Homo sapiens: one gene and its partner. The protein of the gene in region 1 interacts with the protein of each later gene in a biochemical or structural test. Each region holds a gene or a part of one and is shown on either strand. Other genes may lie near its edges.

What was found. Proteins that work in one complex are often made in the same cells at the same time.
Region 2: the proteins of NR1H3 (region 1) and CEP350 form a complex in vitro, tested with the Homo sapiens proteins (one study listed by BioGRID).

The regions. Positions count from the first base shown.
Region 1 is NC_000011.10:47,255,427-47,261,198, forward strand, and holds the start of NR1H3 (oxysterols receptor LXR-alpha), read left to right. Parts: upstream 1-2,569; 5' UTR 2,570-2,703; exon of another isoform or gene 2,704-3,753; 5' UTR 3,754-3,790; coding exon 3,791-3,833; intron 3,834-4,359; exon of another isoform or gene 4,360-4,364; coding exon 4,365-4,553; intron 4,554-4,982; coding exon 4,983-5,249; intron 5,250-5,772. UniProt on the Homo sapiens protein: Nuclear receptor that exhibits a ligand-dependent transcriptional activation activity.
Region 2 is NC_000001.11:179,957,810-179,961,309, reverse strand, and holds part of CEP350 (centrosome-associated protein 350), read right to left. Parts: intron 1-3,500. UniProt on the Homo sapiens protein: Plays an essential role in centriole growth by stabilizing a procentriolar seed composed of at least, SASS6 and CPAP. Required for anchoring microtubules to the centrosomes and for the integrity of the microtubule network.

The sequences.
Region 1 (5,772 bases):
GTTAAAGCAATGGGAAGACCTACAGCTGAAAGAACTGGGAGGGTGATGATAACTCGTGCCATTTCTCAAACACTATGTGCCACACGTTGTGATAGACTCTCTTTCTTTCTTTCTTTTTCTTTCTTTCTTTCTTTCTTTCTTTCTTTCTTTCTTTCTTTCTTTCTTTCTTTCTCTCTCTCTCTCTCTCTCTCTTTCTTTCTTTCTTTCTTTCTTTCTTTCTTTCTCTTTCTCTCTCTCTCTCTCTTTCTTTCTTCTTTTTTTTTGGAGTTTTGCTGTTGTTGCCCGGGCTGGAGGGCAATGGCGCGATCTCGGGTCATTGCAACTTCTGCCTGCCAGGTTCAAGTGATTCTCCTGCCTCAGCCTCCTGAGTAGCTGGGATTACAGGAATGCATCATCACACCCGGCTAATTTTTTGTATTTTTAGTAGTGATGGGGTTTCACCATGTTGGCCAGGCTGGTCTGGAACTCCTGACCTCAAGTGATCCATCTGCCTTGGCCTCCCAAACTGCTGGGATTACAGGCATGAGCCACCGCACCCTGCATGATCTGTAGTTTCAATCCCACAACAACCTTGTGTGGTAAAAATTACTATTATCCCTATTTTATTTATCTTTCTTTCTTTTTCTTTTTTTTATTTTGAGATGGAGTCTCAGTCTGTCACCCAGGCTGGAGTGTGGTGGCACAATCTCGGCTCACTGCAACCTCCCAGATTCAAGTGATTCTCCTCCCTCAGCCTCCCGAGTAGCTGGGATTACAGACCCGCATCACTATGCCTGGCTAACTTTTGTATTTTTAGTAGAGACGGGGTTTCACCATGTTGGCCAGGCTGGTCTCGAACTCCTGACCTCAAGTGATCCACCCGCCTAGGCCTCCCAAAGTGCTGGGATTACAGGCGTGAGCCACCGTGCCCGTTCTATTTATTTTTCAACACACCATTGCTGGCTCAACTATTCTTATTTTAAAGATAGGGAAACAAAGATTCAGAGACGTTAAGTAACTTGCTCAATCAAGATCACATAGGTAATAAGAGGTTTAGGATTTGAACCCAAAATCTGAGCCCAGAGTCTGAACGCTAAATCAACATGCTGAGTTGAAATTGACTACAGCAGTTGTGATGGCGTGTGCCTGTAATCCTAGCACTTTGGAAGGCTGAGGTGGGAGGATGGCTTGAGCCCAGGAGTGTGAAGCCAGCCTGGGCAACATAGTGAGACCCTACCCCAAAAAAGGTAAAAAAAAAAAAAAAAAGGAATAATAAAAAAAATTGACTAGGGCTAATAAGTACGGGATAGACGAGAATAATATTTCTTTTTTTTTTTTTTTTGGGGACAGAGTCTCGCTCTGTCACTCAGGCAGGAGTGCAGTGGCGCAATCTCGGCTCACTGCAAGCTCTGCCTCCCGGGTTCACGCCATTCTTCTGTCTCAGCCTCCCGAGTAGCTGGAACTACAGGCGCCTGCCACCATGCCCGGCTAATTTTTTGTATTTTTAGGAGAGACGGGGTTTCACCGTGTTAGCCAGGATGGTCTCGATCTCCTGACCTCGTGATCCGCCTGCCTCGGCCTCCCAAAGTGCTGGGATTACAGGCGTGAGCCACCGCGCCCGGCCGAGAATATATTATATTTTTCTTGTTATTCATTCAACAAATAGGAACACAGTACCTACTCTGTTGCCACATCTATGCCAGCCCTGTTTCAGGGGTGTTGGGGGAGATGAAATCAATAAAATATGATGTCTACTTTCAGGGATGGATTTCATGCCCCAGGCAGCAGAGTAGGAAGAATGACTATAGTCTCAGTAGCTGCTGGTTGGAGCCTGCCATCACTTCAGATGGGGTTGTTCCCCAGAAGAGGCAACCCGCATACCTTCCCAGGTCCATCCTGGGCTGCCACCTGAGTTGCCTGTCTTCCTTCTGCCACCTCCACCCCTATCCCAGGCCTGCCACTGCTCATAGCAGATTTCCTATCAAAGGCTCTCCTGGCCTCCTCTCTTATCTGTGGCCCCCGCAGGGCACCCACTTTCAGAAACTCCCTGGAAGGCCCAGCACCTGCCTCTCTCCACCCCTGGATTTCTACCAGCTTGGCTGAGGCCTGGGGCTAGTGGGGAGAGCTTCTTGGCCTCTTCCCAGAGGCAAGGGAGGAGGAGGGAGGCTGGGAAAGCCGCTGGGGCTCAGTGTCGCAATTCCGGGCCGTGCTGGGACCTTTGCTCCACGAGGTGCCTATGGAGGGGAGGGAACACGATTCTGGAGGCTGCTGGGATTGGGGTGGGGGTTCCTGGGAGGCAGTCCTTTTGCAAGAGCTGCTAAGAGCGCTGGGTAAGGAGAGGAAGGGGAGAGACATGGAACTTGGCTGGTCTGCAGGGAAATGCCACTGTTTTGGCCGGGAGTAGGGGGCGGGAGTGGCGGGAGAGGGGGTGGCCGGCTGGGGAGGAGCCAGCCTGGTGGAGAAGCTGCCCTGTGGGCGGGGGTGAGGAGGGGAGGGCTGTGGTCACCAGGCAGGAAGGAGGGGTGGCCTGACCCCTCGGCAGTCCCTCCCCTCAGCCTTTCCCCAAATTGCTACTTCTCTGGGGCTCCAGGTCCTGCTTGTGCTCAGCTCCAGCTCACTGGCTGGCCACCGAGACTTCTGGACAGGAAACTGCACCATCCTCTTCTCCCAGCAAGGGGGCTCCAGAGACTGCCCACCCAGGAAGTCTGGTGGCCTGGGGATTTGGTGGGTCTGCTCCTTAGCAGTGGCCTGGGGCTCTGTGTGTGTATCTGGGGTGGGGTCGGGGAATGTCCTAAGGATCTGAGAAGGGGGTTTCTGGGGAGAAGTGAGGGGTGATGGTGATGGAAGCTTGGGACAGGAGCAGGACTCTGGGTCCCAGAATAACTCATGAGGGGCTCAGGGGAGGAGGTCCTCTATGTGAATTGGGGAGATTCTTGGAGACAGGTTTGTGCTGGGACCCTGGAAAGTGGCACGAGCGAGGTTCTCTAATAAGCAGCGTGTTTCACTGGGTGGAGTGAGCTGTCCTCAGTGTTGGAGTGAGGGGGAAGGGGCCCAAGAGAAGCAGGGCAGATGCACCCAAACATTCCCTGCTGGCCTGGAGGGGACTTTGGGGGAGAAAAGCCGGCACGGTGGCTGGGAGCCCAGACTTTGGAGTCAGAGGAGGGTTGGAGTCTTGACTCTACCGCCGCCTAACTGTGTGACCATAGTTACTTAATCTCTTTGAACCTCAGTTTGCTTATCTGTAAAATGAGTTTAAGAATAGTCCTGAGCCAGGAGCAGTAGCGTGCGCCCATAATCTCAGATACTCAGGAAGCTGAAACCTGATTGCTTCAGCCCAGTAGTTTGAGGCGATAGTGTCCTATTATTGCACCTGTGAATAGCACTGAGTTCCAGCCTGGGCAACATAGAGAGACCCCATCTCAAAAAAAAAATTAATAGTTTTGACCTCAGAGGGATATTATGAGGAAAGCACATAAAGCCTTATAACAGGCTGGGCGCAGTGGCTTACTCCAATAATCCCCACACTTTGGGAGGCCCAGGTGAGAGGATCACTTGAGCCCAGGAATTCCTAGACTAGCCTGGGCAAAATAGGGAGAACCTGTCTCTAAAAAACATAATAGTAATATAATAAAGCCTTAGTACAGGCTAATATATGGCAAGTAAATGTTAGCTGATATTGTTGATATTGATAAAAGGGAGGATCAGGTGGAGAAGGGAGCTGAGGCCAGAAAGGAGCCCAGTTCTAGAAGAGTATAATCTGGGTCCTTCCTGCAGGACAGTGCCTTGGTAATGACCAGGGCTCCAGGAAGAGATGTCCTTGTGGCTGGGGGCCCCTGTGCCTGACATTCCTCCTGGTAAGCTTCATTCCATCCCTCTCCCCTGAGCCCAGACCGCAGGCTCCACGCCTCCTGTAGGAATCAGCCTCCTTCATTACCTGCCTTCTTCCTTCCTCCAGAGAGCAGTCCAGAGTCATTCTTAGTCGTGCTTGCCTCCCGCCCAGATCACCTCTCCCCTGGTTCCAGTGCCTGGCCCTTGCAGGCACCCGCCCAGTCCTCCCCAGTCTGGATTTGCTGCTAGAGAGTTGGCCAGCTGAGTGCTTACCCTGCTCTGGCTTTGAAGAGTTTTATCTGATCTCTGAAATGCATACACTCCAGCCCCCCAAAGGGACAAGGATTAACATCTTCATTTAAGGTCCTGAGATGTAAGAAACTACAAGTGACTAGTCCTAGCTAGAGCCCACACAGACTCTAGGGTCCCAAAGCCTGAGCTGGGACTTTGCTGCCCTCTAAGGGTGGGGATAAGTTTGCAGTTTCCCAGCTAGGACGCTGGGCCGTGGAGCCGGGATGGGGCCTGAGACCCCCTTGTGCCTCTCTTTTGGAGCTCAGACTCTGCGGTGGAGCTGTGGAAGCCAGGCGCACAGGATGCAAGCAGCCAGGCCCAGGGAGGCAGCAGCTGCATCCTCAGAGAGGAAGCCAGGATGCCCCACTCTGCTGGGGGTACTGCAGGGGTGGGGCTGGAGGCTGCAGAGCCCACAGCCCTGCTCACCAGGGCAGAGCCCCCTTCAGAACCCACAGGTGAGGAGCTTCTGGGTTTGGAGGAGGTAGGGGTCCAGATTCCAGGTCCTGGATCTGGAAGAGGTTCCTTGGGGGTTTTTACTTTATATATAATCTCATGGTTAAGTTCAGAGGCTTTAGAGCTAACTAAATCTGACTGATCTAAGTGTGAATTTTGTCTCTAGGCCTTTCTGAGCCTCACTTTCCTTGTTTATAAAATGGAAATAAAAATTATGGTTGTCATAAGGATCAGTGCATATAAAAGGCTCATACAGTACCTAGAACATAATGGCACTTGGCAAATGAGGGCTACTCTTCTCATAAAAGAGAGACTGGAGTTTGTATAATGAAGGGAATGAAGGTCACTGAGTGCCCAGGGCAGTGGCTGAGTCAGGGAGAACATGATGTTTTTCCTCGGGGGAGAGCGTTGAAGCACTTTCCTGTATCCAGAGATCCGTCCACAAAAGCGGAAAAAGGGGCCAGCCCCCAAAATGCTGGGGAACGAGCTATGCAGCGTGTGTGGGGACAAGGCCTCGGGCTTCCACTACAATGTTCTGAGCTGCGAGGGCTGCAAGGGATTCTTCCGCCGCAGCGTCATCAAGGGAGCGCACTACATCTGCCACAGTGGCGGCCACTGCCCCATGGACACCTACATGCGTCGCAAGTGCCAGGAGTGTCGGCTTCGCAAATGCCGTCAGGCTGGCATGCGGGAGGAGTGTGAGTTTCTGGGGCTGGAGTGGGGAAGAGGCTGAGGGGAAAGAGGGGGCCAGGGTGTGACCCAAAACAGGTGCCTGAACTTGCAGGGGCTAACTGATCCCTAAGTATGGATCCCAGTATCTTTCTTGACCGGGCGCGGTGGCTCATGCCTGTAATCCCAGCACTTTGGGAGGCCGAAGCGGGTGGATCACCTGAGATCAGAAGTCCGAGACCAGCCTGGCCAACATAGTGAAACCCCGACTCTACTAAAAATACAAAAATTAGCCGGGTGTGGTGGTGAGCGCCTGTAATCCCAGCTACTCAAGAGACTGAGGCAGGAGAATCACTTGAACACGGGAGGTGGAGGTTGCAGTGTGCCAAGATCATGCCACTGCACTCCAGCCTGAGCAAGTGTGAGACTCTGTTTCAAAAAAAAAAAATCTTCTTGCCTTTACCCAGTGCTGTCTGCTTTTCTGGAGCCCCAAACCACCCCCTTTGCCCCATCCTTCCCTCCTGTCTTTCCCCCACCCCCTTGCCCCATCCT
Region 2 (3,500 bases), on another chromosome or scaffold:
CGCCGAGCTAATTTTTTTGTATTTTTAGTAGAGATGGTGTTTCACCACGTTGGCCAGGTTGGTCTTGAACTCCTGACCTCAAATGATCTGCCTACCTCGGCCTTCCAAAGTGCTGGCATTATAGGCATGAGCCACCGCGCCTGGCCATGAGGCTGTTTAAAGTAAAACTTTGAAAAGTGAAACTTTTGATTCATTATATGTATACACATACACGTATAACACACATCTATTCTTTTTATTTAAAAAAATAAAAAATAAAGATAAATGTAAAAAATCAACCTTTGGGAGCACAGAACATGGAAAATATATATAGGTGTCCTGGTCAAAAGTTCAAGAGGTTCCTAAACTTTCTCAGTTCACAGACCCCTCAGTATGCCAGTTATTTTTTTCATGGAACCCCTAGGCCAAAAAAATACCTAACAGTTCCATTTACTAAGTAGTTCAGTCCACAACCTAAAAAGTATTTATAGCCTACCAACTTAGTAGCAGATCGAAAAATAAATATGTATAAATTGAAATAAATATTTTTATTACTAAATTACCACAACTACTTAATAGGATGTGTGTACCTACTAGATATTACACAAGTTCTCAAATCTTGAAATCATTTTGGACACCACCACCTTCATTTACTGTTCCAAATTGATTTTTGCATAGTACTTGCTTTTTATCACAGCAAACTCCCAAAACCTAGCGTTTGGAAGACACAGTGTCATCAAAAAAAATGGAACACAATCTCTTGTGTGGTATCTCAAACTGGTAGTTTGAGTAGTGTCCTATAGATGTCAAATATCCCACAGCTATCCAATATTGCTGTTTCCATTAAAATTTCTCAAATAATGCATAGTGTCCAGGTGAGTTACTATGGTGCTCCACAGTACGGCAGGTCCTCCATAACATAGTTTCATTCAATATCATTTCTTCACAATTTTGATGAGAAAAAAATTTTGATTTCCCCACCAGGGCTACCATCTATGTGGAGCCTGCATGTTCTCCCCATGTCTGTGTGGCTTTTCTCCGTATGCTCCAGTTTCCTCCCACATCAGAGAGGTGCACGCATTAGGTGAACTGACATGAATTGGCATGTCTATATGGTCCCAGTCTGAGTGAATGTGGGTGGGTGGGTGGGTGTGTGTGTGTCTGTAAATGCTACCTGCAATGGAATGGCAGCCTATCTTGTGCCCTACTTGCCGGGACAGGCTCCAGCCACCTGCCATCCTGAACTGAAATAAGTGGGTAATTATCTTGTTTTTAGTATTTCTTAAATGTATGCATAGGACCCATTTATTTCAATGTTTAATATTAGAGGTGTTTGGGGTCTTAGAAGTTGCAGTTTCCAAGTACTTATGGACAACATTAAGTGAGGATTTACTTCAGTGCACAGTTTAGGAATACTGGATTTAAGAAACACTGATCTAGCCTACGGGTTTACTTTGTAAAGTAAGAAATAAGACTTAAGGCTACAAAGCTAGGAGAAAAACAAATATATTTATTATAGATTTTCCTAAATTTCAACCTTCTGCCAACAAAAGTTTTTTTGTTTGTTTGTCTGTTTTGAGCCAGAGTCTTCCTCTGTCACCTAGGCTGGAGTGCAGTGGTGCAATCTTGGCTCACTGCAACCTCTGCCACTCAGGTTCAAGCAATTCTCCTGCCTCAGCTTCCCCAGCAGCTGGGATTATAGGAGCCTGCCACCATGCCCAGCTAGTTTTTTACTTTTAGTAGAGATGGGGTTTCCTTATGTTGGCCAGGCTGGTCTGAAGCTCCTAATCTCAGGTGATCTGCCCGCCTCAGCCTCCCAAAGTGCTGGGATTATAGGCATGAGACACCGCACCCAGCCAACAAAAGTTTTGTTTGTTTTGAGATGGAGTCTTGCTCTGTTGCCCAGGCTGGAGTGCAGTGGCAGTCTTGGCTCACTGCAACCTCCACCTCCCTGGTTCAAGCAATTCTCCTGCCTTGGCCTCCCCAGTAGCTGGGATTACAGGCCTGCCACCACGCCTTGCTAGTTTTCGTATTTTTAGTAGAGATGGGTTTCGCCTTGTTGGCCAGGCCGGTCTCGAACTCCTGACCTCAAGTGACCCACTTGCCTCGGCCTCTCTAAGAGCTGGGATTACAGGCGTGAGCCACCAAGTCCCAGCCCTTCCATCAACAAATGTTTTGACACAGGATCTAATTATGAGACACTCTGTTGATGAAATGTGTAGATCTCTAAAAATCACATTCAAAAATACATTTATATCACTATTTAATAGAAGAAAAAATTTACTTCCTTTTTTTAGAAAAAAGTTTCAAAAATTATAAAAGTGATTCTTACAATAAAACCATACAAAAATGTCTAAAGTAAAAAAGAAAAGTCATCCACTCCCTCAGGAATAACATGTTTAATGTCTATCCTTATAGACCTTTTTCTATTCACATGCAAAATGAAAACAAAACTACATTTGTCTATGTGTTTTTTAAATAAATCATATTCTATAGTATAGTGCAACTTATTTTTTCACTTAATTTTATATCATGAACATTCTTCCAAGTCAATACATAATTGTAACAGCAAACACTTATGTGGCGCTTATTAATGCTTATTTAGGGCCTAACTGTTAACTCATTTAATTCTCATGGTACCCCTGTAACATGAGAACTACTAGTATATCCAATTTATAGTTGACTTTAAGTAATTCGCCAAGAGTCACAGCTAGAAAGTAGTGCAGTTAGGTTTTGAATCCAGAAGGTCCACCGCATGGTTCCAGGAGCTGAAGGATATGCTCAGCTGCTGCTCATGAAGTAAATATAGATACCCTGAAACCTGTTAACAACTGCACAGTAATTCACAGCATAAAAATACTAGACTTTTAACTATTAGCCTACCAACAGACATTTAGGACATTTTTAAATTATTTATAAATGTTATTGACATCTTGAAATAATGCTAATATAAACATTCTTATACAATTCCTATGCTGTTAAAATTTATGTAACATAAATTTTAAGCAGGAAATGATTCTATCAAACAATATATATACTTTTAATCTTGATAGGGAATGCCAAATTTCCTTCCAGAAGGTTGCTCCAATGGTATCAATTTATAGTCCCAACTACAGAGGAAAGGGTTCAGATTCATTTTTAAGTTAACACTTTGGATTCATGAAAAAAAAGGCCCATTTTGAGTTTTTAATTAATACTGAATAGACTGCCAAGTTGATCACAATTATGTTCTGATTTTATAATTATCTGACATATTAAACAAATGTAGACTTAGCAGCTGTGCAATGGATTCTTCTCCCAGTTATGAAATCAACTATGCATGAGATATCGCCCCTATACAACCTTCTGTTTTCTTATGTATAAAATATGGGAATTGGACTAGCTGGCCTTGAAGAATTTAAACTCCCAATACTGAGATTAAGAAGTGACTTAAAGTTATTACAAGGCTATAATTATAGTACTAGTATAACAGGTTAGGGTCTTAAAGTTTATATTTTCTTTAAATTACCGTAACCTGTTGC